Regions from separate parts of the Homo sapiens genome. Here all the other regions are linked to region 2. The links come from fine-mapping of genetic effects on plasma protein levels. Region 2 holds a variant in brackets. A gene starts in each other region. All regions are shown on their forward strands.

Region 1 (2,761 bases), not on the chromosome of region 2:
CTTCTCATCCCCTGGCTCCTGGGCTGCTGTGCAACAACAAAAGGACTGTCACACAGAAAACTGGAATGGAGAAGTTTCTGAAATAGTCATGAGCAATAAGGAAGCAATGAGGACTGATGGTCCCATCCTCCTTCCTGTGGCTCCTCTGAGGCCTCAGCCTGACTCTCCCATTCACCCATTTTTGAAATAAAGAGTTTCTGAAATAGAGACAATTTATCTAATATCCTTGACCTATTGACCAGAAACCAGAAAGGTAAGAAGTGCTATCTAGAGGTGAGAACCAGAGAGTAATCTGGTGAGGCCTTGTTGCGATGCTGACCTCCTGCATCAAAGTACACAGACTGGGAGTCAGAAGCCCTGGCTGTCACCCCAGCTCTGTGACTAAGCCTCTGAGGGACCATCACAAGGGCATCAACAGAGTAGGTACTCATTTGCCAGGTATCAGACCAGGCGATTAAGAAATACTAACTTTAATAATTTGGCAAATCAGCAATTATCTCTGATTTTCCCAGTGGAAAATAATGAAGGGGTTAACGTAGCTCATCTGTGGTCTCCTTGATTTCTGACATTCTGAGATTCTGTGATCTACGAACACAGAAACTAGCCCCAGCAGAACAATCATGCCTTCTCTTGGGCTCCATCAGCACTTGGTACTCAGTGCTAGTGTACATCAGTGACTACTTCCTGATCTGTTACATTTCCTGTGTGGGTTTGTTTCCCTGAGACCATATGCTCTTCAAGGGCAGACACTGTTTTCGTCTCCTGTGGTCCTCCTCCCAGCTCAGTACCTAGGGGAGACAGGCCTTAGAGTGGGTTGTAGATTGTCAGCAGAAACCAGGCAACACTTTGCTTGATGTTGGTGCTAGATGGCTCCTGAAACACTTGCCTTGGGTTTAAGCCCCTCCCTTTTGTTTCTATCTCCAGATGCTGATTTGCTACAACCACTCACAACCAGGCCTTCTGGCCATAAAAGGATAAAAGCCTACTAGTGGTGACCTTGCCCATCACCAAGGACTAAGAGCCAGGTAGGTTCCTCCTCAACTCTTACTCTGTGTTTCCCAACTGTCCCATGGCTCAGAGTACCCACCTCCACCTGTGCAAGCCTCTGTTCTAAGCGCCCGGCTCCTCGCGTCCACACCGACTCCCTCTCTGGCTGCTGCCACTTCGGAGTGAGAAACTGAGCTGCTGCTTCAGTTCCGTATTCAGGTTTTCGTCATTTCCTGCCACCCCATCCTCACAGCTACTTCCTGAAATTTGAGTCAGTTCCTTCTGCTTTAGACACTTAAATTTTAAAAGGATTAAATGTTTCTGTGCCTGGTCTTTTGCAAGGTTTTGACAATGGGGGTCATAGAGCAGTCATAGAAAATGCTGCTTTGACTCTGAGTTTGTAATCCAGTGAGAGAAACAAACATTCAACCAGAAAACACATTAGAGAATGCTGTAGAACAGCATTGTGTCCTAAATAGGGTGGCAGTTACATTTGAGACAGTAAAGGAATTCAGAGCATTTGGTATTGGGTGTATTCATCAAGAAAGGCTTTATGGGAAAAGTGATTTATATGTGGGTTTTGAAGCATAAGACTTAAAAAGAAACTCACCCCTATATTACCCACAGCACTTAAAAGTGGAGTTTTCATATAGATGTTCAAATAAACGTCGACCAATTGAATGCCAGAAGAGAATAACTCATGAGGGAAAAGGCAAGACATGGAAGGAGAGTTTCCTAGCTTGTTTGGGGCACTGTGGAGTCTGAGCTAACAAACTAAAGATTTGGCTCTAGAGCGTAGGAAGAATTCTGAAAGAACCAGGTGCTGGTCAGCTGATGGAAGAAGGTCTTTGTGGTATCCTGTTTTACTGCGTGTCAAGACTTGCTGCCCCTCCCTTCCCTCTTGAAGTCAGACTTACTCAGGTGACTTGTTTTGGCCAGTGACAGATACCACTTTCTGGCGGAGGCCGTAAGACCACTGCAAGCTTTGCCATGCTTTCACCACTGCCCAAGGCAACCTGCAATTCTCCATATTGGCTCCTCCAGCAGACTGGGTCCCTGAGTGAGAAAGAACACAAGTGGAGCCCCATCCACCATGTGGGGGAATTGGAGTCTTTCACTAAAAAATAGTCCTTTGTTTTGGCTACTGAGAATTTGAGGGTGTCTGTTATTGTATCTGACCTAGCCTTTCCTAATCTTGATTGTGGACTTCTTGATTTGTTCACAACGGTGCATCCTCCAAGGAGTTTAAGCAGGACTGGATGAAACTGGCCCATGATACAGGCACTTTTCTGCATTAGGAATATGAAGCCTCTGTCACTTCCAAATCTAAGGATTCTATGCCTGGGGGAGCTTTATTTATTCCTTCTACTTTATTACCTATTTATCATGGTGGTACCAAAGTTATGATAAGGAAGAGTACGTTTGTACAAGAGAAAAATCACTTGGAATCCTCATGTAGTGTCAAAATACGATTTAGACTAGATGATGTGACACACCATCCAGGTACATAGTTCTCTAGAGAAAATATAGAAATTAATCAGAGATGACACCAAGAAGTCCCATCTTTCCTTAGCAAATGTCACAAGTTCATTACTGATGAGGTAGTGAGGTGTATCACACAGAAAAAGAATGGGCCTTGAAGCCAGACAGACTTGGTTCAATTAAACCACTTATTGTACTTTGAGAAAGTGAGCTATCTTCTCTCAAGCAGCAACTTAATATAAAAATCCATAATAGCTGGGCACGGTGGCTCACACCTCTAATCCCAGCACTT
Region 2 (2,761 bases):
TTTTGTATTTTTAGTAGAGACGGGGTTTCGCCATGTTGGCCAAGCTGGCCTCGAACTCCTGACCTTGTGATCCACATGCCTTGGCCTCCCAAAGTGCTGGGATTACAGGTGTGAGCCACTGCGCCCGGCCTATTTTCTCACTCTCAATGCAGATATCCCATCCATAGCCAATTGCCCTGGATAGCTCGGTCAACTAATTTTCTGCAACTCCTTTTCTGTTGTGTGGTTTTAGAGGGAGACTAAAACCAGAGGAGAATAGAGCAATTCTGCCTCGGGGTTGATTTGGGGGCATAAATAGACTGAAAGATAACACAGAGTCTGTCAATTCAGTCTCTCAGAGACTAGCTTTTTGTTTTCAGGAGCAAAAGCAGGGAGATGTGGGGGGGAGTAAAGGGATAAATCATGATACAAATCGTGACCCAGGACTCATCAGGAATGGATCTAGCCCCTTTTGATTTTTTTCCTTTGCTGAGTGTTATTTAAGTGAGGGCTCCTGGATTACCAAACTGAGAAGGCAGAATGTTCTAATGGTGCTCTCAGGCCTCAGGTCTGGAGTATAGTCTGATTTCTCCTTATTCAGTTCATCTCTCTTCCCAGCAGTACTGCTTTGTCCCTCATTTCTGTGATTCTTTCACTTCCATGATAGTTGAAGAATTAGGGACTATGTGACCCCTGGGTAAAAAATCCTCCAGCAAGGCCGGGCGCGGTGGCTCACGCCTGTAATCCAGCACTTTGGGAGGCCGAGGCGGGCGGATCACGAGGTCAGGAGTTTGAGACCAGCCTGACCAACATGGTGAAACCCGTCTCTACCAAAAATACAAAAATTAGCCGGTCATGGTGTCACGCGCCTGTAATCCCAGCTACTCAGGAGGCTGAGGCAGGAGAATGGCGTGAACCCGGGAGGCGGAGGTTGCAGTGAGCCACTGCACTCCAGCTTGGGCGACAGAGTGAGACTCCGTCTCAAAAAAAAAAAATTTTCCAACAGACAGGCTTTCTGAGTTTTGAGAAAGGTCCTGAGACTTTGCATTCCTAAAAAGCTTAGGGTTTGGTTGTCTTTGTCCTGCCCATTTCACAGTCATCAAATTCAGCCATTGAAAGCTGGAGGTGGCTGGGCATGGTAGCTCACGCGTGTAATCCCAGCACTTTGGGAGGCTGAGGCAGGCGGATCACCTGAGGTCAGGAGTTCGAGACCAGCCTTACCAACATGGCAAAGCCCTGTCTACTAAAAACACAAAATTAGCCAGGTGTGGTGGTGGGTGCCTGTAATGCCAGCTATTTGAGAGGCTGAGGCAGGAGAATCGCTTGAACCTGGGAGGTGGAGGTTGCAGTGAGCTGAGATTGC[A/G]CCATTGCACTCCAGCCTGGGCAACAAGAATGAAACTCAGTCTTAAAAAAAAAAAGGGAAAAAAAAAAAGAAAGCTGGAGGGAGCGTGGTTGCTGACCTTTATTCCCCCTGCTGGCTGTTAGTTTTCTCAATCATATTTATTAATTTATGAAGGCCACACACACATTTATTGAATTTATCCAGCATTACTGGATGCCAGGTAGAGTAGAGGGGGTGGTTTACAAAAGTATCACTCATTTCCCCTCTTTTTCCTGCCCCCTCCACACCATCTTATTATCTCCAGAGAGAATCTCATTTAATTCTAAACTCGGCTCTGTGAACTCTTTGAAATCATAAAAAAATTATTTTTATTTATATATATATTTTTTGAGACAGAGTCTTGCTCTGTCATCCAGGCTGGAGTGCAGTGGTGCGATGATCTTGGCTCACTGCAATCTCCATCTCCGGGGTTTAAGCAATTCTCATGCCTCAGCCTCCTGAATAGCTGGGATTACAGGCATGCACCACCATGCCCAGCTAATTTTTTTGTATTTTTAGTAGAGACAGGGTTTCGCCATGTTGCCCAGGCTGGCCTCAAACTCCTGAGCTCAAGCTATTTGTCCCCACATTGGCCTCCCAAAGTGCTGGTATTACAGGTAGGAACCAGCATGCCTAGCCATGAAATCATAAAAAAATTTGTGAATGTATTTTGCTGGGAATAAGGTCCATAGATGTAATTGGTTTATCAAAGGGGTCTGCTGTAACTCAAAAAAGGCATTAACCTTAACTGATCTAGGTCAAGCCTCTCATTTCTCTGATGAAGAAGCTGAATCTCAGAGAAAGGGAAAATTTGAGTTAATGGCTGATCCCCATTATAGTACAAGTATTGTAGCCAGGCATGGTGGTGCATGCCTGTAGTCCTAGCTATTTGGAAGGCTGAGGCAGGACTCCTTGAGCCCAGGAGTTCAGGTCCAGCCTGGGCAACATAGCAAGACCCTGTCTCTATTTAAGAGATGGATTGTAGGAGTTTAGAGACATTTTCTCCTGTAATATCAAAACTCTTGTTGACTGTGCTTTACATGTTTTGGGTCTGTGTCAGATAGGAAGATTGTAGGTGTCTCTTCCTGCCGTCAGTTCTTCCCGAGTCATGTGTTGAGTTTTTTCTTTATAACCAATATTTGGTCTCATGTCAGCTGGGTAGTGTTCTGTGGTACCAGTGGCTCCCACTCTTTCCTGAGCTGTGCTTTTTGAATCTAATCTTGTGTGTATACAGAAATAATTAGCAGGGTGTGGTGGCATGTACCTGTAGTCAGCTACTTGGGAGGCTGAACGGGGAGGATCGCTTGAGCCTGGGAGGTTGAGGCTGCAGTGAGCTGTGATGGCACCACTGCACTCCAGCCTGGGTGACAAGAAATAATAATAATATTAATAAATCTGATA
Region 3 (2,761 bases), not on the chromosome of region 2:
ATGGCTCTTAGAACAGTGCCCAGCACATGGTAAATGCCCAATAAATATTTACAGTTAATACACATGTGATTGTGGGCCCTACCAATTGTCTGGCTCAATTCTATCTGCTGTGCCCTCTCCAGTTAAACTCTTTCTTCTTTTATTCCAGCAATTGCTCACGGCAATACACACACCCACTCACACGAACACACGCACACACATGCACGCGCACATGCACACACGCGCACACCTGCACACTCACACGCACACAAATCCACTCGCACACACGCATGCTCACACGCACACACGTCCGCATGCACGCACACACGCAGACACACGCAAGCGCACACACACACGGGCCTCCTCGTCTTCATTCACAAACCCCATTAGCTTCTGTTGTCTATGGGCTTCCTCGACAGACCGCGAGCCCCTCGCGGGGGCCAGAAACCAAGTATGGATCATCCCTATGTGCCTTCCTTTCCGTCTACACCAGGTTAATGGGGTTGACGTATGGGTGTGACTTCCTGTCCAGGTCTCTGTAGCTTGTTCTCCTGGGGGTGGGGGGCGGGGTGTGATTGTTACTAGGCCTGCTAAGAAGAGGAGAGCAGTGTATCTGTCTCCCTCCTGGTGGGTGTGACAATGAGATTGGAAGCCATCTAAGATAGGCCAGGAGATGTATGTCTGGACAAACATGCCCCAAGCCTGACGGCCCCCATCGTAGCCTCCCTCGCAAGCCGCGCCCCAGACTAGAGAGAGGGCCTGCGCATTCCTGTCCTGCCAGTCCGGCAGTTCCCTCTCCTGTCTCCTCAGCTTTACACCCAAAGCAGCCGCTGCCTCAGGTCCAAGCCTGAGCCCGCGGCAGAACATTGGGCTGCCTCCCAGGCCCTGACACCCCCAGCCCCGAGGTCCTGTCCACCCGGCAGACAACTTGCCTTCCCCCTCGGGCCCCTTCCCCCACTAGGCCCCACGGACGAGGAGCTGAGCTCAGGGCCAAGGAATCCTGTCTCAAAAGGGGGGGTAGGATGAAATGTTTGGGGTCTGGGCTCTGATTGGCTGCGCCCGGGCCACGCCCCCAGCCCTTTCCCCTTTCTCCCCCCTCGAAAGGGGGGCGTGAAGGGAGCCGGGATCAGCCAGGGGCCAGCATGAGCCGGAGGGAGGGAAGTCTGGGTAAGGGGCTGAGGGACCGGACGCCGGGTCGCTGAGGGGCGCAGGAGTCAGAGGGATTGGGAGCTGGGGGTCTGGGTTTCCGCCACCCCCGGGTCCGGGAGGGGAGCGGCCTTGGCGGGGAAGGGCAGGGCTCCGGTGTCAGGTAACGAGTGAGCGGGTGAGTTGTGAGAAACAGCAGGCGCTAGGGTTTAGAGGAGGCCTGGGGCTGAGGTTTCAGGGACCTGGGCTCAGGGCTTAGATCACCGGTTCGAGTACACCCAGGGGGAGGACTGGGGTCGGGGCTGGGGCAGGACCCCTGCGTCCACTGAGTCTCGGGAAAGAATCAGAGCTGGGGGGCTGAAGGAAGGGGTAGAGTAAGGGAAGGCAGTCTTGGAGTCACAGGAAGTAGTGAGTGACAACAGGAGACGAAAGTCTGGGCTGCTGAGGATCGCGACTGGTGCTGGGAAACTTCGGGGGTGGGGCGGGGGCGGGGCACCGGGTCAGGACTACATTCCCCAGCACGCATCGGGCGCGCGCTGTGCGTTTCGGGAAATGGAGTCCCTCCCGGGGCGCCAGACACTGGCTCTTGCGGACCTTGATTCGCTGACTAGCCAGGCCAGCGCCTTGCATGGATGGGGCATCAGGGAGAGAAATGGAAATGGAAGTCAGTCTCCCTATCTGTAAAATGGGCCTTCAAGGCACATTTTGATATGAAGTTCTGTACTTCGATGATGTTGAAGTCCACTAGCAGTCACTGAGGTAGAAATATGTAAGCCCTGTCTTCAAAGGGCTCTCAGGCTAAGGCAGATACACACAGAAAAGCCGTTAAAAGAGCTACCCTGGAACTCATGCAAATGGCCTTAAGTCAAAGGAAGGAGTTCGTTTATAAAGGAGAAGTGATTCTGGAGGCTTCACTGAGGAGGCAGTACAGTCATGCACTGCATAACAACATTTGGTCAACAGGTGGACCGCACAGACAATGGAGGTCCCATAAGATTCTATGCATTTTTAGCCTGGGCAACATGGCGAAACCCTGTCTCTACAAAAAAATACAAAAATTAACCGGGCATGGTGGCGCATGCCTGTAGTCCCAGCTACACAGGAGACCCAGGCGGGAGGATCGCTTGAGCCCAGGAGGTCGAGGCTGCAGTGAGCCAAGATTGCACCACTGCACCCCATCCTGGGCGAAAGAGCAAGACTCCGTCTCTCTCTCTCTCTCTCTTTCTCTTTTGGGATGGAGTCTTTCTCTGTTGCCAGGCTGGAGTGCAGTGGCCTTGGCTCACTGCAACCTCTGCCTCCTGGGTTCAAGCAATTCTCCTGCCTCAGCCTCCCAAGTAGCTGGGACTACAGGCGTGTGCCACCAAGTCCAGCTAATTTTTTTTTTTTTGTATTTTTAGTAGAGATGAGGTTTCATCATGTTGGCTAGGATGGTATTGATCTCTTGACCTCGTGATCCACCTGCCTCAGCCCTCCAAAGTGCTAGGATTACAGGCGTGAGCCACTGCGCCTGGACAATTTTTTTTTTTTTTTTTGAGACGAAGTCTCGGTCTGTCACCCAGGCTGGAGTGCAGTGACCTGATCTCAGCTCAATGCAACCTCCTCCTCCCAGGTTCAAGCGATTCTCATGCCTCAGGCC

Which allele goes with the higher level. Alleles are on the strand shown, and positions count from the first base shown. The strength of an association depends on the size of the effect and on how common the allele is.
For the plasma level of the protein whose gene starts at base 1,171 in region 1, allele G in region 2 goes with a higher level than allele A (weak association).
With allele A in place of G in region 2, the plasma level of the protein whose gene starts at base 1,092 in region 3 is lower (weak association).

The links. A credible set is the group of variants that fine-mapping cannot tell apart. PIP is the posterior inclusion probability: the model's chance that the variant is causal. The UK Biobank Pharma Proteomics Project read protein levels with antibody pairs (Olink). The fine-mapping took linkage between variants from a reference panel, not from the people measured, so its PIPs are less certain.
Region 1: it holds the start of HCLS1, and the variant in region 2 is the best candidate, but not a certain one, in a credible set for the plasma level of the HCLS1 protein (UK Biobank, PIP 0.67).
Region 3: CTF1 starts here. The variant in region 2 is the best candidate, but not a certain one, in a credible set for the plasma level of the CTF1 protein (UK Biobank, PIP 0.73).

The regions. Positions count from the first base shown.
Region 1 is chr3:121,659,733-121,662,493 of GRCh38, forward strand. HCLS1 (hematopoietic cell-specific Lyn substrate 1) reads right to left here and starts at 1,171. Exons shown (of 14, transcript NM_005335.6): 1 at 1,088-1,171. RefSeq lists enhancers at 1,014-1,203, 1,394-1,443.
Region 2 is chr12:54,331,349-54,334,109 of GRCh38, forward strand. The region is part of intron 1 of COPZ1 (coat protein complex I subunit zeta 1); the gene reads left to right. Among named protein-coding and RNA genes, the nearest start is that of MIR148B, 4.5 kb to the right of the region's middle. The variant A/G (reference allele first, on the strand shown) is at 1,343.
Region 3 is chr16:30,895,523-30,898,283 of GRCh38, forward strand. It overlaps CTF1 (cardiotrophin 1), which reads left to right and starts at 1,092. Exons shown (of 3, transcript NM_001330.5): 1 at 1,092-1,146. The coding sequence starts at 1,122. RefSeq lists enhancers at 1-261, 262-765, 1,629-1,678.